3 separate regions of the Homo sapiens genome follow, and regions 2 and 3 are each linked to region 1. The links come from fine-mapping of genetic effects on gene expression. Tissue or cell type: cerebellum. Region 1 holds a variant in brackets; each other region holds the start of a gene. All regions are shown on one strand. Distances are between the middles of the regions.

The links. PIP is the estimated chance that this variant, and not a neighbour inherited with it, causes the effect.
Region 2: it holds the start of CNN3, and the variant in region 1 is fine-mapped to the expression of CNN3 in cerebellum (GTEx, PIP above 0.99). The same link has a PIP of 0.9 or more in cerebellar hemisphere.
Region 3: SLC44A3 starts here. The variant in region 1 is fine-mapped to the expression of SLC44A3 in cerebellum (GTEx, PIP above 0.99). The same link has a PIP of 0.9 or more in cerebellar hemisphere.

What each region holds. Positions count from the first base shown.
Region 1 is chr1:94,851,733-94,859,838 of GRCh38, reverse strand. SLC44A3 (solute carrier family 44 member 3) reads right to left here. Exons shown (of 15, transcript NM_001114106.3): 10 at 2,339-2,504. Among named protein-coding and RNA genes, the nearest start is that of SLC44A3, 35 kb to the right of the region's middle. The variant A/G (reference allele first, on the strand shown) is at 4,677.
Region 2 is chr1:94,922,549-94,930,654 of GRCh38, reverse strand. CNN3 (calponin 3) reads left to right here and starts at 3,545. Exons shown (of 7, transcript NM_001839.5): 1 at 3,545-3,817. The coding sequence starts at 3,761. It overlaps CNN3-DT (CNN3 divergent transcript), which reads right to left and starts at 4,295. Exons shown (of 3, transcript NR_168377.1): 1 at 3,915-4,295. RefSeq lists silencers at 3,028-3,907, 4,008-4,437.
Region 3 is chr1:94,816,557-94,824,662 of GRCh38, reverse strand. It overlaps SLC44A3 (solute carrier family 44 member 3), which reads right to left and starts at 4,306. Exons shown (of 15, transcript NM_001114106.3): 1 at 4,185-4,306; 2 at 3,607-3,714; 3 at 28-170. The coding sequence starts at 4,211. SLC44A3-AS1 (SLC44A3 antisense RNA 1) reads left to right here and starts at 4,431. Exons shown (of 6, transcript NR_160780.1): 1 at 4,431-4,707. RefSeq lists a silencer at 4,113-4,302.

The DNA of each region.
Region 1 (8,106 bases):
TATCAAATGAGCTGCCAACATTCTGGGAGCTGAACTGTGGAATGTGGGGTGCTGGTGTATGTGGGGGACCTCATTTCAGTGTTTAGGCTTTCACTTACTCCCCCTGCTTTCAGTACAGAGACTTGCCCCCAGCCTCAGCTGTACCTGATACCCCAAGTCCAGGCCCTCTCTGCTTTCCCTCTCTGGAGAACAAATTTTCCTGTCTTCAGCTGGTGTGGAATTTGGGGGTCTAACTACTCCTGAGGAAGGCTTTCAGCTAATCTTTGGAAATACTTTTTATACTTGAATTCCTGAGCCTCTCTGGGATTCTGTGGCTCACTTCAGGCTGCATCTTATTTGTCCTCCTCATGCAGCCAACACACACGGACAGGCTGCTTCTGCTTTCTCCAGCGGGCTTAGGGCACTGCTCCACCTCCCTCTCTTTGGCTCTCACCATTTGGTTGGTGTTTCTTATCTGCTGTCATTGCCTCTCTGTTTCTTACTGTCCTGGTGTGTTTGTGCCTGTTTCAATCTTTCATGATTTTTTGAGTGGCTGGAGAAAGGGAAGAGATTAGGAGATAAATGCATATGCTTCACTGGAAGTCCAAATTAGAAGTCCTCATTGAAAATGCTTTGATTTTGTTATTCTAAGATAACACAAAATTACTGTCAGGCAAATATTACCTGCTGGCAAATTTGGTTAGAATACTCTCTTTGCTCCCCTACCTGGGAGGAAGCAATACACACAACCCACCCCCGGCTGCTTGGAGGTTCTCAATGCCAAGGGCAACAGCCCCTCTGTGAGTCCTCTGGAGTCTCTAATGATGGAGGCTCCGGAACTGCACCACTACATTAAAAACCCACAGTGGTGGCCGGGTGTCGTGGCTCATCCTGTAATTCCCAGCACTTTGGGAGGACTAGGCGGGTGGATCACAAGGTCAAGAGATCGAGACCATCCTGGCCAACATGGTGAAACCCCAGCTCTGCTAAAAATACAAAAATTAGCCAGGCGTGGTGGTGGGCGCCTGTAGTCCCAGCTACTCGGGAGACTGAGGCAGGAGAATCACTTGAACCCAGGAAGCAGAGGTTGCAGTGAGCCAAGATCGTGCCGCTACACTCCAGCCTGGGCGACAGAGCAAGACTCCGTCTCAATAAACAAACAAACAAACAAACAAACAAACAAACACCCGACAGTGCTCCTTATCATCAGGAGGAAACTGCTCAATGGCAGGAATCACCCCTGGCAGATAGTCTCTCCCAATGAAGCTCATGTTTCTCTCTCATTTGGTCTGAGAGGCTGGAGGAGGATCAGCCCTATGAAGAGTAAACTTCTCTTTCTGAGCCCAGTCCTGCCATTGCCCTGGCTGGGTTCCTCTGTCCTGAGGGCTCTCACTGCCCTGGGGTGAGTCACACACACAGAAGAGGTAAAGCGTTCAGGGGTGTGTGTGTTTGTGTGTGTCCTCAATTGCTTTCATGATGTGATAGGGATATAAGCAGAGAAGTGTGTAACTAATTCACTGGTTCTTAACTATAATATAAATTATATTTTGTAATTACATACAATTCCTTTAGGATTAATTTTTTTCCCCAAGCAAATGTTATCTGATTTTGCAGAGGACAAACTGAGGCTCACAGAATTTACTGAAGTATATTCAAAATAGACCAGTAATTTTTTTGTCTGAAGTCAATTAGGATGGATATTCATAGGGGAGTTCCACCCTTCCTTTTTTTAATATTAAAAGAATGGCAGCCAGGTGCGGTGGCTCACACCTGTAATCCCAGCACTTTGGGAGGCCGAGGCAGGCATATCACGAGGTCAAGAGATCAAGACCATCCTGGCCAACATGGTGAAACCCTGTCTCTACTAAAAATACAAAAATCAGCCGAGTGTGATGGCGCATGCCTTTAGTCCCAGCTACTTGGGAGGCTGAGGCAGAAGAATCGCTCGAACCCAGGAGGCGGAGCTTGCAGTGAGCCAAGATCGCGCCACTGCACTCCAGCCTGGATGACAGAGCAAGACTCCATCTCAAAAAAAAAAAAAAAAAAAAAAGGCTACTCCATAGGCAGAGCAGCCCCTTTTTATCTTTCAAGTCTAAGCAATATGATCTCTTTTCTGTTTGTCTTCTTTCTAAATTTTCTAGCTTAAAGTAAAAAGGTTGGAAATGTGACAGATTTAGGGTGTAATATTTCTTCTCACCACCAAATGAGAATACAGCCCAAATTTTAGCTTACTCTTTTATTCTTGCCAACTTCTTTTAAGGGGCTAGGTCAACATTCCCAAATATCTTTTGAGATATTAACATGAAGCACATAGATAAACCACATAGACAAACCAATAGAAAAAAAACACTGGACCTACCTGTTGAAATAACAAGTAACCACTGCCCCAGCTATAGTCATTTGCTGGCACGCAAGGATGAATTCACTAGTCCAGATGAGGCCAATTAAATGGTACGACCACATGTACCGAATGCCCGAAAGGGGCTTATATTCCACTTGGCCGCCTTCCATAACCTGGGCAGCTCCTAAAGTTTCAAACACAAACATGCTTTACACCAATGTTTTCCTAAGCATGAACCATGGTTCAACAAGCCATGTTTCTTTATGCTTGGCCTTTGGCATTACATAAAACAAATGCCAAAATCAAGTACCCACCATAATTTAAAATATACAAAAATCAAAATCAAAAACACACATTTAACTTCTAAATAACACCAACGGTGATAATTACAGTGACCATTGGTAGGCAATTTCCAAGACACCTGACATATGCTATAATACTCATCCCACTTTGTGGATGTGAAAACTGAGGTTTAGAAGAGGCAAGTAGGCTGGGTGTGGTGGCTCATGCCTGTAATCCCAGCACTTTTGGAGGCTGAGGTGGGCGGATCACCTGAGGTCAGGAGTTCAAGACCAGCCTGATCAACATGGTGAAAGTCCACCTCTACTAAAAATACAAAAATTAGCCAAGCATGGTCGCAGGCACCTGTAGTTCCAGCTATTCGGAAGGCTGAGACAGGAGAATCTCTTGAACCTGGGAGGCGAGGGTAGGAGTGAGCCGAGATCACGCCACTGCACTCCAGCCTGGGTGACAGAGCAAGATTCCAGTCTCCAAAAAAAAAGAAGAAGAAGAAGAGGCAAGTAACTTTTGTAAAGTCTCAGAGCTCAAAATTAGTAGAAGGAGAATATAAACCTAAACACATGGGACTCTAAAAATCCGTAGTTTTCCTACCATATGACTTTGTGATGCAAACCAAACTCAGCACGTTGATGAAACCACACAAAGCTTTTAGTATCACATTATAGAATCCTACTTCACCAAAAATTTAAACTTTATAAAAGAGACAAGGGTCTTTGTTATCTCAAAAGGATCTATTTCAGATTTCATTTCAAGAGCAAACTCTCTTAGCACATTTAAAATATCTACTGGGCCTCAGTGTTAACCTTCCCAGGTTCAGATCCCAGCTTTACCCCTTTGTGGGTAACCCTGGACAAGTTATTTGGCTTCCTGGAGTTTTAGATTCCTTATCTGGAATACCTGGAGGAGTTTTAGATTCCTTATCTAGAATACCTATTTCCTGGTGGTATTTTGAGCACGGAGTGAGAGTACTTGGAAAGTACTTGGTATAGTGCCCAACCCATAGACATATCGCGCCATAAGTGATAATGGTTTATTACTATCATTAAATTTCAGGAGCACAGTACTACTTTCAACTGAGGCCAGCAAGGTCACCGTAACAACTTTTTGCCATTCACGTGGCTATACCCTGCTTTCTTTTCTCTCCTCTAAAGAAGTCCTTGAATTAGCTCTGCTGGTAAATCCACTGGTAAATCCAAATTTACTCTGCTGGTAAATCCACTGGTAAATTCACTGGTAAATCCAAATCCCAGCTTTGTGGCTGCATATGATTTCTAGATCTTTTCCCACTATGGATTTTAAAACAACTACTACTGGGAAGAAGATGCATGCTCTGGTCTTTGGTGAAACCTATAGCTTGAAGAACATTTAGAGATTGTTTCATATTTCCTGCCATAGCTATAAATTGACTTTAGGCTCGTCATTCAGGAGTCCTTAGATATTCACAGTAGGGTCTGTGTGAAGGAAAGGGGAGGATATCCGTGCTGTAGATCAAAAACTGATTCCACTGACTAAGGCTGATCTTAATTCCCAAGCTCTATGTTCTGCTGAACAAGAATTACATTGTAAGAAACAGTGGAACAGCTTGATTTATAGAGAGGTTAATGTTTTATGAATGCTGGGCTCACTTTGGCTTGGAGGCAATCTCTGTTTTGGGTAAGGCATGGATAAATGCCTATGGTTTTCTAAGATGGGGTGATTCAGGGCATGCTTCAGGAAACATTCCCAATTCCAGAGGAGGTGGCCCCTCCCAAACAGAATGCCTGTTAGGTAGATGAGGTCAGTGGACTCTGAGAACCACTCTGGAATATGAGAAGTGCTCTGAGCCAGGGAAGAAGTACCTGCTCCTCCTACAAGGCCCAGCAGTATCAGCGACAGATTATGCTTTTGCAAAACTAGGTTTACAATATCACGAATAGTTTGCGGGCGGAGAATATTTCCACAGAACAGGAAGGATGATTTCTTCAGACAGACAAAGGTAAGTATGTCCTACAGGACCTGGACGCTAATGGGGGCCAGACTCTCCTCTCAGCTGCCCTGTGCTGTCAAGTGCACATAT[A/G]CGCACACCTCCCAACCTGGCACAGTCAGCGGTGGGAGCAGCTGAAGTGATGAGTCAAGATCCGCTTAGACATTATTTGGCATTCCCCCAAAGAATGGCATTTGGCACTCCCCAAAGAAGCAGAACCTGCAAGTTATTTTTGAGTGATCACTATTGTTTCTGAACATCCTTATCAAAGCCATCTTCTATTTGTTCCTGGGGCTGTTTAGGACTTTCCTTTAGGGCAGGGTTTCTCACCGACATTGTGGACCAGATCTTCGCTGGGGCTGGGGCTGGGGCTGGGGCTGTCCTGCGCACTGGAGGGTGTTAGCAACAAGCCTCGCCTCTCTACACAGATGCCAGGAAGCTCTCCCTCCCCTCCCACAGCCACGACAACCCAAAAATGTGTCCACACATTGCCAAATGCCATATCAGGGGCAAAAAGTCACCGGGGGGCGCGGGGGGCTTGAGAACCATTGGTTTAGACAAACGTTCAGGGGCGCTCTGGCTTCAGGGCGAAAGCCGGGAAACAGGTTGGATCTAGCTCGGAGTCTGCGGTTGCAGAGCCTGTGGGTGGGGTAGACGTGCTTAGGCACACATGACTGCCCTCTCCTGGATGGCTGTGTGAATGCAGGCAAGATCCCCTCATCACATGACAGTTGCTTTGTCTCTATGGACTGGGCACTACAGCTACTATCATGGGTAGCTAATGGGTGTTAATGGGAGGTAGACTATGGGTAGATCCCAAGATATGACAGATCTCAGGGGATGGTGGTGGGAAGAGCACTGAATTGTGAGAAGGCTTGGTTCCAGGCTCAGCTTTGAAATGTGTGACAAACAATGTGGGCCACAGCTCTCTGATGGTGAAGAAGAGAGTAGGCAAGATGAACTTGGGACAGTGATTACTGGCTTGGGCTTGAGAGTCACACAGGCTGAGAGTCACATCTCTGCACTGTCCCCTAAGCAACCTCCTGCAAATAGTGGGACTTTTTTTGAAATCTGCTTCATCACTTGAAATCGGAGAATGGTAATACCTACTTCTCACACCCTTGGTGATCTCGTCCTGTCTTGTGGCTTTTAGTGCAATACACATAGCTGTTATGAGTTAAGTATAATAAACAGGTAAGGCTCTTAGAATAGTAAGTGCAATAGGGTCAGCTACAGTGAGTGCCACACAGGGTTAGCTATAAATGAGATATAGGTAGATAGAATTCCAATTCTGAAATTAACTTAAACATTTATTGAGCATCTACTCCATGCTGGTATTATGCTGGACCTCAGCTATTAGGCGGAACAATAAATGAGGCAAAAAAAAAAAAAATCAGAGAGAGGATACCATCTGAGTTACTATCAGAAACTTACATGCTCCCATATTGGTCCATTTGTTTCCCCTTCTTCTGCCCAACTGTTTTATAAATTCCCCCTTCAACCTTCAAGAGCTTCCTTCCCATCCTCACTCTCAGCCCATGATCTTACCTCCTGTTTCACTGAGAAAACTGATGCAATCAGAAAACCTCTGCTAGTGCTGACCACCTCACACCTAACCTGCTATCAACACGGGTCCATAATCTGAGTCCTCTCCCAGAACATGATATTAATAAATGGCCCATGATCCTATGGCCACACTTCACCAGATCCCATTCTTTCTAACCTGTGTGAACATAACTCTTCAATAATTTTCACCCTCTTCATCAAAATCTTTCTCTCTATTGAATCATTCGCAACTATCTCCCATCTTTAAGAAAAATCTACTGTGGACTCTTTCCTCTTCCAGCTTCCTCTCCATTTCTGTTCCTTTTAACAGTGAAATTCCTCAAGATTGTCTATACTTACTCTTTCCAATTCTTTTCCTCCCACTTTCTCTTCACCTACTCCAATCATGATTATTCAGTGGTCAATCCTCAGTTCTTCCTTTAGCGGCAGCACTTGCCACACTGGACCGCGCACATCTCTGTGAAACCCTTCACCTGCATTCCAGGGCCCCACACTCCACCCCTTCTCCTTCGACCCACTGGTCACTCCCTTTCAGTCTTCTCTGTTTGTTCTCCCTCATCTCCCGGGCATCCTGAAGTGCCTCAAAGCACAGTCCTTGGATTTCTTCCCTTCTCTATCTACATTCATTCTAATCTCATGGTTTTAAATACTATTAATATGTTCCCAAGTTCCTAAATGTGAATCCCAGCCAGGACCTCCTCCACTAACTTCAGACTCAGATAGCTAACTGCCTACTTGACATCTCCATCTGGTGGTCTAAAAGACATTTCAATTAAAGCAACTAAAAATTAATTTCTGATCTACCCCTAAAATGCTATACTCAAATTCTTGCCCCATATATCAGTTTATGGCAAAGTTATCTTCCAGTTGCTCAGGCCAAAATCCCTCAGAGTCTTCTCCAACTCCTCTTTCTTTCATGTAACCAGAAAATCCAATTTGCTCTACCTTCAAAATAGATGCAGAATCTAATATGTCATGCCACTTCCAACATTATGACCTATTCCAAGCCACCATCCTCTTCTTACTGAATCACTGCTATTAAAATGTAGTCAGGTCAAGATTTTATTCTGCTTAAAATCCTGTAAAGACTTCTTCCCAATTCAGGTTAGAAGCCAAAGTTCCTACAAAGGCCAGAAAGGCCCCAGGATCTGACTGTGTGCACCCTGACTCCCCTCTGAACCAAGCTCTCCCTCGCCCACTCCACTCTCGCTGAATAGGCTTCCCTTGCTGTGCCCTAGAACTCCAGCCTCTTGCCAGCCTCTGTGCCTGGGATGTTTCCCCTTGCTTTAGATGGTCTTATGGCTCTGCACTCACCTACTTCAAATCTTTCTGCATCATCACCTTCTCAGTGAGGCACCCCTGATCGTCAAATTTAAAATGACACCCTGCCCCCTCATGCATTTCCTATTTGTCCTTTCTGCTTAATTTTTCTCCATGCCACTTATCAACTTTTAAAGTACTATAACATTGACTGACTTACTTTATTTAAAGCCTGTCTCCTTCTACCCTCCAAATTGGAAGAAAAGCTGTATCTCCAGCATTTTTAATAGGGTCTGACACACAGTAAATATTCAATAAATATTTGTTGATTGAATGAATGAATGGATATATCTTCCTCAAGTAATATATTCTATTAAAGAGATTTGGAGACAATTTTCTAGAGATCTTCCTTGAGAGCATCAAAATAATCTGAAAGATATTCATAGTGCAGTTAGCTGTAAGTCTGGATATTATTAGCAAGCTTTAAAGCATTTCAAAAGACTAAGGTGATATAATGATTGTTATAGATGGCAGTTCCTTATGGAAGGCAGTCCAGCTGGTCAGGATAATTCCCCAAGGGAAGCAGGCCTAATTTGGAGGGGTTCTACTTTCCAGCACATTCTGTGCACTTGGCCTTGTCCAGCAAACTGGCCCAAGAGTCCTGCCAGCCCCAGCCTGCTGACATTCATCCTGCCTG
Region 2 (8,106 bases), 71 kb before region 1:
GTACATGAATGTTCATAGCAGCTTTATTTGCAATAGCCAAAATCTAGAAACAACCAAAATGTTCATCAATAAGGGAATGGGTAAAATCACTGGTGTATCCCTACAGTTGAATACTACTCAGTAATAAAAGGAATGAACTAATGATACATGCTACAACGTCAGTGAATCTCGTAATAATTTTGCTGAGTGAAAGAAGCCAGATAAAACAGAATATACAATGTGTGATTCCAATTATATAAAATTCTAGGAAATACAAATTAATGTATAGTTACATAAAGCATATCAGGGGTTGCCTGGTGGGGTGGAGAGGTAAGGAAGACTGGGAGGGAGGGGCTACATGAGGAAACTTTTGGGTATGATGAATATGTCCTTTGTCTGTTGTGGTGATGGGTTTTTAAATAGGTGTATCTATGTGTATATGTGTGTATCAAACTGAACACTTTAAATATACTTTGTTATATCAATATACTTCAATAAAGCTGTTAAAATTGTCCCAAATTTTAAGTTTTTCTCATTTGATTCTATAGTGCCACAGTAGGTAGTCAGACACAAGCAGAGCAGGAGAGGGCTCCCCGCTCCCACCAGGAATGTCACGCAACCATCAGGTGGTCAGGCAGTTGTTAAACTGTCTCTCTAAAATAATAACTGGTCACAGCCGGCACCAGGGAAAGGCAGTCTCCCAATGGCTAGAAAATACCTACAACTGGTGATCAGCAGCTTCTGGATAGGATCTTAGGAGTTGGCTGAGTGGGCTCACAGGTGTGAACTAAGAGGCAAAATGGTGGCATTTAACTGGTACTCATATATGACCTTCTTCTAGGAACACTTGACTAGTAAGCGAAGAATGCCTCAAGTGAGCATGCGTACAACCTCAGTTAACACACTGAGCATGTGGTCCCTCCCAAGTGCTGGCAGGCCACTGCACATGCAGACAGCCCACCTCAAGGGAAGAATCAGGGGAAAAGGGACACAACCCCCTGGAAGCATGCCAATGTATAAAACCCCAAGTCAAAGGTCAAGCAGCGCACTTGAATCTCTCAAGTTGCCCGCCTGGCCCTCTTCCAAGTGTACATTACTTCGTTTCATTCTTGCTCTAACTTTCACTCCTGCTCTAAAACGTGCCTTGGCCTCTCCCTCTGCCTTATGCCTCTCGGTAGAATTCTTTCTTTGGAGGAGGCAAGAATTGAGGTTGCTGCAGACCCATACAGATTTGCTGCTGCTAACACACTTTGGTGCATGAGACTCAGATACATTCCCTAGTGCTAACAACAGCATTACGTATTCTTACACAATGAGTTAAATTAGAAACGAAGGAAGTCTCTGGAGTACTGATGGAATCCAAGAGGACCAACAATATTTAAATAGTAAGTTCCAGTGGCAATGTCAGAAAGAACTTCAAGTACCTTAGGGAGGATAACAGTTGATCAAACAAACAAATGTAGAAAATTTCATGTTTACTTTAAAGTCACGTAAGTGTACAATGGCATTAAGTACATTTACAATGTTGTGTGACCACTGTCACTACCCATCTTCAAAACTTTTTCATCATCCAAAACTGAAATCCTGCACTCCTTAAAAAATAACTCCCCCTAAACAATAAAATTCATGGTTTTCAAGACAAAATACAATTCTTGAACATTTTACAATAAGCTAAAGTAGATTAAAATGACTTTGAGCATACAACAGGAGCAGTCAGGCTTAGATTGCTGCAAAAAGGCTTTGCAGGCTGGACACCATGATTTGTACCTCAAATCTGGCTGCTATTTCCCACACTCCTAGGTCCCAAAGAAATGTGGGTGAGGTCCTGCGGTTGACACACCGTCACTGTCATACTACTGGAAAAACAGCCCAAACTGTTAGCCTCAATGATATTGGGTCAATTGTGTCATCTTCGTGTGGGAAGAATGCCCTAATTATCATTACTCCCTTTGGACAAAATTAGCAAGTCATTTATAAATCATTTCACTTTCCTCCCTATTTGCCTCCTCCCGCTTCCTTCAGGTTCCATCCCTCAAAGTCATTGGGAAAAGCCTTGCAAACTGGATAGCAGTTTTGTGCATTTCCGGTTCAAGCTGCCTTACTCACTTTTTTTTTTTAATTTAAAAAAACTTTGGATTTTTTGTAGAGACAGGATCTTGCTATGTTGCCCAGGATGTTCCTGAACTCCAGGCCTCAAGCAATCCTCCCACCTCGGTCTCCCAAAGTGCTAGGATTACAGGCATGAGCCACCACACCTGGTTCACCTTACTCACTTCTATTCCAGGACGGTTCAACTATGATGTTTTGGCTCCTCTTCTCAAGCAGCTTTCCACACCTGGTTCCATGATCTCTTCTGGCACAGTAGCTGGTATTTGGCAAACATAGGTTTCATCCTGGGATCTCAGGGATTGAAATCTGTCCTAGGTGTGCACCAGAAAGTGGTGGCAAGAGATGAAGCTTCGGAGGAGGCTGACCTCGGCCAGGATTCTTAAGTCTCAAAGTTTCAGCTTTCTCACCCCTCAACGGACATGAAATCTACCTATTTGTAACTCCAGGGAAGTAAATGAGATAATGTTTGGAAGATATCTAGTCTACCAGCTGCTCAGGCGGGGGGCGAAGGTTCTGTTCCCTGTCCCTTCTCTATCAAATGGCTTTAAAATCAGAAGAAAGTATTACGGGTAGGAAATGGGACTGCGAAAAAAATGGAGGCTGATTCTGGCCTAAAGGATACTTATCTCTATACAAAGGGCTTCTGATTCAAAGAGGCCCCGGGATTCAAAAACACAAGCAGAGCTACACCACGTGGGGTTTGGGACGAGCTGAATTCCGGATAAAGATGCCTGTAAAGAGGAGTTGATGCGAATCCAGAAAAGCACTTGAAATGCCCAGGCTTTGCATGGCACATTCCCCAGGATTTTTTCGCACCGCATTTAGAGGTTTAGACGGAGTGAGCTCGAATCAGGCCAAAAGCCTTAGGTTACTCCTGGGCGGCAGCGGGGCAGAGGTCAGATCAACAGGTGTGGAAGGCTGCGAGGTGAGGGAAGAAGCAGGTGTCGGTGGAGGCCCCAGTTCCTCCGGCCCAGAGGCTCCAACGCTGCTATTGGTGTTCCAGCAGCGGGCGGAGGGGTCCTGCCCGGCATCTGGGCGCGCTGGGCCCAGAGCCCGGGAGGAGGCAGACGGAGGCGGCGGGTCAGCGGCGGGCCAGCCCCGGTGGGCTTCCGCTCCCCTCCGCCGGCCCGGTCCGGCCCGCCGCGGAGGATGCCTGGAGGTTGACGTGAATGGCCTGTGGCTGGGAAGCCCCCAGGCGCCCTGCCTAGCCCGGGGGCGGGGCCGCCTAGCCGCCGGCCCCGGTGGCGTGAGGGCTGGGGCGGGGGCCGGGGACCTCGCGGGGAGGGAGCGGGAGGGAAAGCGGCCCCCGCGGCCCTTCAATTGGCCGCACCGCCCCTCGGCGCAGAGGCGGGAGGAGGCGGCCCTCCATTGGTCGGGCCCGGCGGCCAATCCTCGAAGGCCCAGGCGGAGGCGGGGGCGGCCTGTGGGGAACCGAGGTGCGGGCGGCGAGCGAGGCAGCCGGGTGCTTCGCAGCGGAGCTCGAGGCTCTGTAGCACCCAGTTGGACCCAGTCGCCCAGGCACCGCCCGCGCCCCGCGGCCGTCTCCTGCGCCTCCCAGAGGAGGGAGTTCGAGCATCCCCCGCGGCGGCCACTCCTCGGGGCCAGGAGCGGGGAAGCGAAGTGCGAGAGACCCCGGACCCCAGCGCTGTCTCTTCCCGCCGCCCGAACCACCATGACCCACTTCAACAAGGGCCCTTCCTATGGGCTCTCGGCCGAAGTCAAGAACAAGGTACGCCTGGCTCGGGCGGGCGCGGGGGCCCCCGGGGCACCCTTGGGCTGGCCTGGCGCTGGGCCGTGCTTCGTTTGCTCTTCGCGCTGTGGCTCACCGTTTTCCTGGAGAGGGGCCGTCGAGGCGGCGCGAGCGTCTCTGCCTGTCCCGGTCGCGTCCAGTCCCCGGGCTTGCGGGGCCGGCTCCCGGGCACCCGCCTGGCTTTGTTCCCGCGCCGTGGGACAGGACTAGTGGCTGGCGGTGGGTTCCCGGGCGCCTGGAGTCCCGCGGCGCCAGCCTTTCCGGCTGCGGGGGTCTCGGGGGCCGTTTGGTGACTGCAGAACGCGCCCTCCGGGAAGGGGGCGCTCCTGCGTGGCCACTCGCCCTTAGGCGGAGCCCGTCTGCGCGGCCAGGGACCCGGCGAGCCGCTGCCGCAGCCCCCGCCATCTGCCCGGGCCCCGGGTGCTGGCGGACTCCGCGCCTCCCCACGGGGAGAGAGACCGCCTAATGTCCCGCCGACCCCAGGGGCCCCGAGGAACGGAAGCCGGTCCGGGACCCATCACAGTCTCCGATCTCGGTGCCTGGGAGGCATTTGGAGGCAGATTGCTGCTGCTGCTTCTGCTGTTGCTTTTGCGGGAAATGGAGACAAAGCCTGAGCGCGCCACTGTGCGAGTGATATCTGCTTAGGCTTGAGACTTTTTATGAAACACTGAGAAGTTTGAAGTACATTAGACTTTCACGACATAAAGGATTATTTTTGTGGGTTGCTTTTGTTTGGGGCTTGTTTGCTGAGGCGGCTTATAGTTTGGAGCGATTGGGATTTGGTGACGCTCAGCTTTGCCACTGAGCCCAAGAATGCGTTAGGTTTATCTTTAGGACTTTTGGCCTGGGAAAGAGATGAGAGGCGTCCCCCTCCCCAAATCCTCTCCTTCCTTCCTCCCTCCCTGCATTCCAAGCCCATGACATCAGGGGTTTCTGGGGGGAGAGACCAGCCAATCGGCGCGGAACTGTGCACAGAACGCTCATTGTCTCCTTTCTGCTGTTCTGGCCAAAGCGCCACAAAGGAGGGCTGCCTGTGGTTTAATTCCCATTAACCTCCCGGGAGCCCAAGCATGTCAGGATTGCCACCGCACCGTCCGACCGCTGGTGGAAGGCACTGGCATTGTCAGAGCTGGAACATCCCGGGGCTGCGGGGGTAGGCGGTGTGAAGCGAATTATGTAAAGAGGTAATGAAGCGCACCGTTGTCAAACCCCAAGGGAGAGTTGTGGCTCTTGTCTCCCGCTGTTAGTCTGCACATCATACTGTCTTTGAAGCAAGGAGTTGATTTTAGTCTATGTATCTAAAGTTGAAATGTTTAGGTCCTTTACCTTTTCAAACGTGTTGCCCGTATTAGACAACAGTTTGCTAACAATTTTTTTAGAGAGCAGAAAGGTGAATGGTTTGTGTATGATTGAGTGCAAACCTCACCAACTGAAAAGTTTGTAACAAGTTACTGTTTCCTTCCTTCCAGGATTTACAAACCGAACTTTAGGAAACTTCAGAGGAATGGGCATGTCCAAAATGTTGGATGTGATGTGATACTTTGGCCTGGTTGTGCACATTCATTGTAATTCCCCCCAGTGATTCTTGGCTGGCAGCAGTTGAGTCTCTACTACCTTTTGCATTGTAAATGAGGTACTGATAACGTTGGCAGCCCTTCAAGTGACTTACTTTTCTTGGATGTTAATAATATCCATGCTAATTTCTTTTTTGCTGACTAATGTAGCAGCTTTTGCCCTTTTCCTGCTTAATACTGAGCAGATCCAAGGAAATGCATACACAGGCTAGATCACTGTAATTATTGTAAATATTTAAAAACGGTAAAACCTCAGTTTTTAGAACCTTTGGAAAGTTAGTTATGAAAGCTGTGGATTTATCCCTTTAAGCACCAAACCCATTTTTTAATAACCCGTTTCATTTTTGTAGTCCTTTCAGACAGTATTCTTTCATAGGAAGTCTTTTGATCTTAACAGCAGAGCAGTCCTGTAAGGTGAGGAGGATTGCTGGGATTATCCAACATCATTTACAGATCAGTACACTGAAGCTCAGAAAGATTTGCTCAAGGTCACAGAAGTTGGACTATTCTAAGAATTTTAACTCTAAAAGCGATGTCTTAGTTGAGTGAAGTACTTAGGGATGTTCTACACAAACTCTGCTGTCTGTCGCCTTCCCCCCATTTTTTTTTCTTTCTTTTTTGAGACGGAGTCTTGCTCTGTCGCCCAGGCTGGAGTGCAGTGGCGCGATCTCAGCTCACTGCAACCTTCGCCTCCCAGGTTCAAGTGATTCTCCTGCCTCAGCGCCCCGAGTAGCTGGGATTACAGGTGCCTGCCACCATGCCCGGCTAATGTTTGTATTATTTAGTAGAGACAGGGTTTTGCCATGTTGGCCAGGCTGGTCTCCAACTCCTGACCTCAGGTGATTCCCCCTGCCTTGGCCTTCCAAAATGCTGGGATTACAGGCGTGAGCCATGGCGCCCAGCCCTTCCTCCCATTTTTGCTACCCACCTGTCACTTCTTGACATTGTGATTATTTATGTCATACTGTTTCTGATCTGTTCTGGGCCTGGGAATCAAATAGCCATGTTTGCTAGGCCTTTGTATGAGATGCTGCATTTTGACTGAGGCCTCAGGACTCCCGGGTGAAAGGTGGGTATATACAAAAGTGACATTGCGTGGTTTGACACCTTTTGATTCCTTCCTGCTTTTTCTTTATTGCATAATTGATACATTGCTTGAATGCTAGATTCCCCCCATCTACCCCCACATCTCATTTAACAAAGAAGTATAGAAACATCCTGGGGAGACAGTGTGGAGTGGACCTGGGAGTCTAGCATATGTGAGTTCTAGTCCCCGTTCTGCCACTTCCTGCCTTCTGTGATGCTGGGCTAGCTACTTGACATCTCTCTCCTAGCTTCTGTTCTGTAGAATGGGGGAAAACAATAGTTGCCACCCCCAGACACCATGTTGTGGAGATGTGTCTGGCTTATACTCAACTCAGTGACTGTATTGTAGCTATTAGCTCTTAGTAACAGAAAATTAGTTTTTAGTATTATATTTCTAAGATTTGTATGTCCCTGCCTCTTTAAGTATTTGGTTTGTATTAATACCTTTTGGTCTTGTTATATAATATTCTAGCTGTAAAAGCATTTCATCAATGAATTGAGGAAGTCTCTGATTTTAAATACTTTAATCAGTAAAATTTCAGAGAAAAATCTTTAAGACATTTGATTGGTAAGATGATAATACATGGCAGAACACACAAGCTTACTTTTTTTAATAGGCAAGAAGATGTGTGAAAACAGCCTTAAAAAAAAAAAGCCTAAGAATTCCAGTCTTTCAGCCTGGAATATGAACAAAGTTTCTTTAATAACAAAGAAAAAAATGACACCAAATGATCAATAACTTAGAGTTTACAAAAACTATCAGAGAGTAAAAGGGCCAGGGAAAATGCAGACACTGGTAGGGATGGTTCGGTGGAGGATGGAAACACTCATAAAATAATGGGCCCTACAGGTATTCTACAGGTTGAACCAGGCCCTTGAATGCATCTTGGGAACCAAAATGAAAAGTGAAACAACTCTGTGCCTCGTAAACCATGAAAAAACATAACAGGTACTCAAGGGAAGCACAGTATTTCCTGGCAAAATGTTGGAGTTGGGGGTAGTTTCCCGTAAAGTTGGATGGGAAGAGAGGACGCAGTGAAGCATGTCTTCATCAGGTTTAGAGCAAATGCCGCAGGAACCTTTCTTACAGGTCTCAGGGAAAGTGGAAAAAATAAATTGACAAATGGGGAGCTGAAATAATCTTACCTCGGTATGTTTTTTTGGGAGGAAGCTAACTGGAATATTAAGAAGCATGGAATTGGAATGCACATTCTTCCAGTCTTCTGCCCCCTTGGAATGTCTGATTTGAGCAAAGCAGCTTCCCACGGGATCTTCTTGATTACAAAATGGTATTTCTCAACACCTAAAAACCTTCTTGAAAGGCTTATTACCAAAATCTTTGGTTGTTGAAGTTAAACAATCATACAGTAATAATTAGATAGGACCAGTGTCCGCGAAGTCCTCCTAGCTTGTTTGCCGGGTGCGCTTTAGACGCACAGCTGCTCTGAGGGTACTTCTGATCAGAGTAACCCAGGGTGACCCAGCTATAAATTACACTCGAGGGTGGTTTGCCTTGTCTTGCTGGTAGAGCACCAGAATCTTGGTAAAAATGTGTTGGTGGGCTTAGCTTTTTTCTTTTTAAACTTGGAAGTTCAGAAATTGGTTTTT
Region 3 (8,106 bases), 35 kb after region 1:
AGACTGGGGACTTATTTAGATACTTACTTTTTTAGGGTCATGTCCTGCCCTGAAAGAGGGGCCCCTTCCACGGGGGAGTTCTTCTTGCCACACATGTTGCCAAAGCTGTCATAGCCAAAGAGGAGTCTTCCCGCGGCTCCAGCCACCACCGAGTAGCCCATGATAAACACCTGGCAAAAACGGGGGCATATGAGAGCCTGGCCAAAGGGCTGAGCGCACAGTGCCCCACACCCCTGCAGATGCTGATATAAAACGGAGCCTGGTGGAACGTGAAGCTCTCCAGCATCATAGCGCTTTGCTCCGTCAGTAACAGTGTCAGCAACTCCCATCTATCAGCATCCTGCTCCTCTGCTACTTATACATTTAGGTAGAGAGAGAATCTAATCCACTGAAACAGATTTCTCTCCATTTTCTTACCTCTGTGCTTTTTAACCTTTTCCTTAAGAGTCTATCATTTTTCTTTTTGGTCTAACTTTACTGGGACAATTCAATTTTTCTTCCCTTGATGTTCTTGCTTAATTTAACTGCTTCAGGGCTATGCTAATTCTTTCCCCAAGGTTTTTTTTTTTTCTACTACTTTTTTTGTTTTTCTTTTCTTACTTTTAAGGGATTCTGCAGAAGCAACACAGTTGATATGTACTGAAACACTGTTCACCAATCTGCAAATAGTGTTTTGGAGTAACTGCTTAAGACATACAAAATAAAGGACCACAGGAATTCTGTTGGACAAGAACATCTTGCAATCTATCATCATTTTTATCCACTCTCATAGTGAATGTGGAATATTTGAAATTTCAGTTCAAACAACTGTGCCATTAATACATACTGACAGGCTCTCTGCCAAGATTGAATATGTATCTTCCCATAATGCAAACTTAGTAAGTTTCCCAGTACTGTATGCAATATATAGGATACCATTTAATACTCTATATTGACAAGTTCATTCCAGGAGAACAGATATAATACACTATTCATTAATATATAGTATTGATACCTTATGCTGCAAAGGTACATTGTCCTAAATTCAAATACCTTCTAGACATTCTGCATTTATTACTAATTTAGAAATCAAAATAACAAACATTCTTCAAGTGCCCAGTGTGTTCTTGAGACTTTCTTACTGGGAGACACAGGAATGACCAGAACCTACTCCTTGCCTCCAGGAACCCAGCCTAGAAGGCAAGCAGGACTTACGGGCTGCAGACCTCCTGGGGAAGGAGGCTCCCTGTCCTTTCCCACTCTCCAAGATCCTCCTAAGTCTAACTGGTCAGATTCTAGAATGAATGGGTCACCTTTGCTAGTAGTGTGTGTCACTCACCCTTTACCTAAAGGCTGTGGAGTAGGTGTGACTCTGTTTGCCAATGTGGCTGGCATGGCAAGCTGACTGTGCCTTGACATGCTTGTCTCGTCCTTTCGAGTTGGAGTGTAGTAAGGTCTGGACTGTGTTTGGATTTAGAGGGAGGAAAGGGGTCATGTGCTTCTGCCCAGCTCACCAGTAATCTAATAACAAAGTGATGTTTTCCATTTACCATCATTCTTTCCTTTGGAAAGCCTGTGGTGAAGAATGGAAAGTTTTTCTGGGTGGGAGAGGTGGGAGTGGTTTCTGAGGATTCCTGAGTCCCTCCTAATAAAACTATGACTTTATGATTATTATTTTTTATGTTTTGTAGACACAGGGTCTTGCTTTATTGCCCAGGCTGGTCTTGAACTCCTGGCTTCAAGGGATCTTCCTGCCTCGGCCTTCCAAGAAACTACTACTATAAACCTTCATTGTCCTAATTTCAAACATGCAATTGCGATTCTATATGACAGGTGATATAGGAGGTGTGTACATTGGTCTAGTACATTGGCCACCAAGGTAGTCACTGTCAACCGTGCCTGCAAAATCAGGAAAATGGAATCTTGAGGGATGATAGGAAAAGGCAGGGCAGGAGAGGATACTGGAGGGGTAAGTAGAGGCAGAGATAGTCCAGACTTTGAGACTTTGTTCCTTATGTTTAATGCAAATATAAACACAGGCTGGTGCTGCATTTGCAAGAACCATCTCTGCTTATAATTTCAGCTCCTTCCCCCAAGCCTTTGTCCAGCCCTAACTCAGGGCACACCATCACCAGTCAGGACATCTGTCACAAGACCTGAAAGCTGAACAACAGAGGCAGAAAAAAAAGTCCAAAAACAAAACACTCCTTGCTCTGTTTTAAATACCTGCAAATAAAAAATGTTGCAAAAGACACTAAAAGCCAGTGAGCTAAGAAAGGACTCTGACTCTTAAAACAGAATGCCATAGTGAGAACTTGGATATATTAAAACTTCAGACTTATTTTGCAAATGAAATGTAATTTTAAAGCAGTTTCCAGCTCCGTGCCACCTCTCAGCTGGTTCACAATTCTTCAGGCTGTGATAGGTCATCTACAAAGATTTTCCCCAGGATTCTCAGCTGTTGGGCTGAGAGTTTGGTAGTGAGGTCCTAGGTTGAAGCTGTGGAGGGGCTACGGCAGATCATTAAATCACAATAACAGCTTGAGGTCAAAGCTGCCAGGCACAAGGCAGGCCAGCTGCTCCCTGCATTTATACAACAGCAGTCTCAGATAAAAACACCAACCATCTGCGAAGTTAAGCAGAAGGTATTGTAGGTGCACTGTCTCTCCCAGCTCCTAGGGGAGAGTTCCAACGTAAGCAACAAAAAACATCTGATTATGTGTTTCAGACCTAACCTTCCACTGTGCCTGTAACCAAGCCTGTCTATGTGAAACGGGTCATAAGTGAACAAATGCCTTTCTTACTTGGAAAGAACAAACATGATATTTTAGGGCCTATTCAGATGGAATTCTTTTCAACAAAGGTAATTACTATCTGGTAGTTATTACCCTGCTCTATAAATTAATCATTTACCATGCAGCAAATAGCATGCCTTATCCTGGCATGGATGATTTCGTGAAAGTGGCCTTTGAAAATGTCGGGTGAGACGTTTTCTGCTGTTACCTACAATTCTAAAATAAGTATAAAAGCAGCAAGATTCGGCTTCCAACAGACTCTCTCAGGATTATAACCGCATAGCCTGATGGAGTTTACCAGCAATCATACATACCTCGAAATTAGAGTGGGAAAAATCATTCCTTGTTAGCTATGGTTAACAGTGTTGGCTGCTAAACACAACATATCTCTCGCGCGCGTGTGTGTGTGATGTTCAGCTAAAGGAAATGCAGTTTATTTCTAGGCTTACCCTGGCTTTTCCTTTGTTAAAGGTGCACCAAAAGCTTGAGGAATATTTGATTTGGGGGTGTGGCAGGTGCTAAAAGAACTTCTGTTCAGTAAGTTCGGAGAGTAAAAGGAGACACATTGGCCTTACTAAATAGCAATCACATTGCAAACTGTTAATTCCCATTTCCTAATGGAGTCACCCCTTAGAACATGGCCTGTAGCAAAAAGACAGCCTTTCTAGCGAGTCTAGGACAAGAATTCTCCCGAGTACAAACTGATGTTTATTGTGGGTTAACGGCAGAAGTCTCTCACTGCAGCACCAACTACGATTTACATTTGGGACAGAGTTATTTCCAGACGTGCACACACACTCTGGCCTCTTTCCTACCAAGCACCCACACTTACCAAACCAGTCCAAAAGAGAAAGAACAGGAATAACCATGCCGTATCTGTGCATTTCCTATAAATCTGGGGTCGCCACTCCCTTTGCCTAGGGGCTCCTTCTGCAGAAACCTTCCAGAAAAAGGGAGAGTTGAGAAAAAGAAGATAAACAGGTGGACTCAACCTGGAAACCGAACCCAAATCTACTCGAAGAGGGGCCAAAGTAACCAATCTTTTTCTAAATTTTTAAAATTAATATTATTTTTTTACGTGGCCACCTGAAGCTCTTTCACACAGCCTTTGAAACACCTGCTCTGCGCGGAGCGGATGTTAAGCCCCCTGCCGCCAAGTGCTTACCTGGAGGTGCACCTGAGGACGACCCCAAGTTTGCGCCCCGCGGCCCGCGTCTCCCCCGCCTCCGCCCCAGCACTGGAGCAGGGTCCAGGTTCCTCCCCGCCAGGTGGCCCCAAGGTACTAAGCGGGGGCGGGATCCCCGAGGCGCGGGAAAGGCGGAAGCGTCCGGCAGGGAAGGTGCGTGAAGGCGGGGGACTCGACCCTTCCCCGGGGCTCCTCCCCCGAGGGCCGAGGCTGCGAGCGCTTACCAGGTACTCGGCGCCCAGGCAGTGCATCGTGCGCTCGCCGGCGGGGGCCGGTGACTGGGAGCCGCCGCCGCCTCCTGTACGCGGAGACGCAGCGCCCGCGAGCCGGGGCCGGGGCCGGGGCTGGGGCTGGGGCTGGGGCTGGAGCCGGGGCCGGGCCGGGGAGGGGCGGGCACGGTGCAGCGCCGCCTCCCGTTCGCCTCTGCGCCTGGCCCGGCGACTGCGGGCGCTGCGGTCCACTGGGTCCGCCTCTTCCCGGCATGGGTTTCTGCCCAGCTCACCCGCTGTCAGCTGGGGTCCTGCTCTGGTGGGAGGAAGAGGCTCAGACGCTTCCCTGCCCTCTCGCCTCAACCACCTCGAGGCAGCGGCTCCCAGGATGTGCACTTTGACGACTAAAGCTGAGCCGGCGCCGCCACGACCTTGGGCGGGTGGTCGGCCTCTGCCCTGAGCAGGAAGTAGAAAGTCTCAGCAGACCCTTCCTGAGGGCCGAGCAACAGTGTAGTGGCGTATTCCACATAGCAAACAGGTAAGCAGCATTTACTGTGTGCTGGATTCTGTTCTCACTGCTATTGTTATTCCTAATCTACGGAGGAGGGAAACTGAGGCACGGCCATTGGTGATGCAACTTGTTCGAGGAGACCCAGTAAGTTGTGGAGGCAGGAGTCGAACCCAGACACTCCGGGAGACCGGCGCTCTCGAGGTGGTTTACTCTGACTTCTCTCCCACCTTGCCTTAGGACAATCATTGCCTGACTTCGCAATTGAAATGGTAGTGTCCACTGAAGCGACTGGTGGCATAGTTTTCCAGGTAGTGTCAGACCAGCGCAAAAGCACTGTTGGGGTGAGGAATTTAAAAAACGAAAAACAAAAAAAACTGCAGGCCGACCTCCCCCCACCTCCTCTCAATCAAGCCTCTACCCTTCCCCCTGCCACCCTTAGGGTTGCTAGGTTAATTGCTTCCTTTAGGTGCTGCTTCTCCCTAAGGGTAGAAACCTGACTGGAGGAAAGATCTGGGTAAGTGGGAGAAACTGGGAATGATAGACAGTGGTTCTCTGGTGCCAGCGATTTCCTTCTGGGCTCACACCACCCTCCCACTGCAAACTCACTGGGCCTTCCTGGATGCATGTTTATCAGACAGAGTAGGTGAAACCCCAGGGGAACATGAATTCATAGGACAAAGAATTAGACACTGGAGGAGTGCAACTACTGTTAAAAGACCACAACTGAATAACATATGCCATCTGAAACTGATCAGTAGAGCAGATGGACCAAGATTTTTAAATAAGCATGATAAATTTATTTAAAATGAGTTATGATATTAGCAATATGAATCAGGAAAAAATATGAAACTAAAACATATTAAGCATAAAAATAATAATTAGAATGAATATTGATGCTACGTATTAGTAATGTGCAATAGTCTAAAAGATGCAGCTGACGATGAATTAGTAATTGGAAGAGCACTTTCAGCAAACCTCCAGAGGCAGTAGAAAATGTTTTAAAAAACAAGTTAGCTTATTTGTAAATTTTCTAGCTTATATCTAGGGTAAAACTAGAACAGAAAGGAAGAAATATAAAAACAGAGAAGGGGAAATATTTGAAGATATAATGGAGATAAATTTCAAGGTAGAAAAAAACCTTCAGATTGAAAAGGTTTATCTCAAGCAAAATGTTTCTATATGTAAGTATTTAAAAGCATAACTTTGAACTTATTTTCTATTAAGCCATATTGTCATTAGAATGTGAGAATGTATTAATAATAAAAATATTCTTATGAAAGATTCATTTGAATGACATTCTTGGAGGACATAATCAAGCAAGAAGAGAAACAAATTCAGGAGATGATACAATAGATATAGCATGAGAGTGGCCAAATATTTAGGCTGAATTTATTGTTGTGTTAGAAAAAAGACCAGGAACCACCCAAGTGTCCAGGAACTGGTGGGTGGCTATACATAACTGTGATGCATCTATACGATGAAATACAACTAAGCATTAAGAAGGAACAGACTTCTTACATATGCAAAAACATGGATGATCTCAAATGCATGTTAAGTGAAAAAAAGTCAGATATAATAAGCTACTCTATGATTCCATTTATGTGACATTCTGGAAAAGGCAGAAAATAGATCAATGGTTGTCAGGTGCTGGGGGTGAAGGGAATCTGGAGAAACTTTCTGAAGTGATGGAAATATTCCATTATCTTGAGAATGGTACTGATGACCCAGTGGTATCTGTTTGTCAAAATTTGTAGAACTGTACACTAGAAAAGGTGAATTTTATTGTATGTAAACTGTATTTCATTAAACCTGACTTACAAAAACTCTTTTCAAAAGTCTAAAAACAAAGAACAGTGTATTTATAATGATTCAGACCTAAAATTATAGACAATATCAATATTGTGAGGGGTGTGGGACTCAGGAATGAGAGGCCAAAATGATAGGACAGTGATCTAAAATAGTGCCATTCAAAGGGTGGTTCACAAAACTTAATTGTTCTCTAAGAGATAAGGAGCTTGTACCAGAATGCATATCAGCTATGTCATAAGCAAACTCTTTGATTCAGCTGACACTTTCGTAGCAAGACTTTCTCAATGAAGGAAGCTGTGTGTTGATTTACATGTGGGCTCAAATCTCATTCTGGAATGGATGAGATAAGTAACCCAGTACTACTTAGAGTACTTAGAGTAGTACTGGGTTAAATTACTATCATATGGGAGGAAGACGAAAAAAATTGTTAACTTTAATAAATCAATAGGGATAAATATTTGTGAATGTAGGTCTTAAGGGTAACTACCGTTAAAAAAGAATAAAACATGTAACTTTTAAAGCAGTGGAAGAAAATTTTATCAAATGAAAGGCAAGAGAGCAGAGGAAAAAGGAATAAAAAGAAAGTGCAATAATTAGAATATATGAAATTTGATAGCAGAAATAAAATTACTAATAATAATTTTTACTTTCAGTGTACCTAATATGTTCCAGATACTTTTCTGGGTGTTTCTTATTTGATCCTCATAATAACCTTATGAGGAAGGTACTATTACTTTCATCATCCTCATTTTATAGATGATGAAACTGAGATTAACTAACTTGCTAGAAAGTGGCAGAACCAAGGCCTGAACCCAGGTGGTCTGGATCTAGAACCCATACTTAGAACCATACTTAGAGCTATTCTATGCTGCCTCCTAAATAGAGCAGCAATTACAATAAATGTAAGTGGCTTAAACTAACCAATTAAGAAAAACAGTCTTTCAAATTGAATGAAAGCAAGGGATTCAGCAATATGTTTTCTACAAGAAACTTGTGTAAAACAGACACTAAAAGGTTAAAAGGCTTGAAAAGGATATAGTGCAAATGTGAACCAAAGAAAGCTCATGTAGTAATTTTAAAACCTGACAAAATAAAACTTAAGATAGAAAGTTCATAAGGGAGGTCATAAATGTGCCCAACAATACAGCTTTAATATTTATTAAGCAGCAGCTAACAGAAATTTAGGCAGAAACAGATAAATCAGAATTATAGTTGGAGATTTTTAACTGGCTCCTCTCAGTATCCAATAGATCAAGTAGACAGTAGATACTTCCTCTCCTCTCCCAACACACATACACACAGAAAGCAAATATACAAGGTCTGTACAATTTAATTAATAAACTTGAGCCATTAGATATTTATAACTCATATACGTTTCCATCAAACAGTGAATACATGTCCTTTCTCTTTTCAGGTACATGTGAAACATTAAAGTAAAAACATAAACTGTGTATTAGATCTTAAAGGGAGGCTCAATAAATTTCACAGTGCAATAAAATTAGAAGTAATGAATAACAGTATGTGTGGTGGACAGATTTTAAGGCCCCTATGATTTCCACCTCCTGGTGTTTACACCCTTATGTAGTTCCCTTCTTCAGATATGGGTGGGACCTGTAC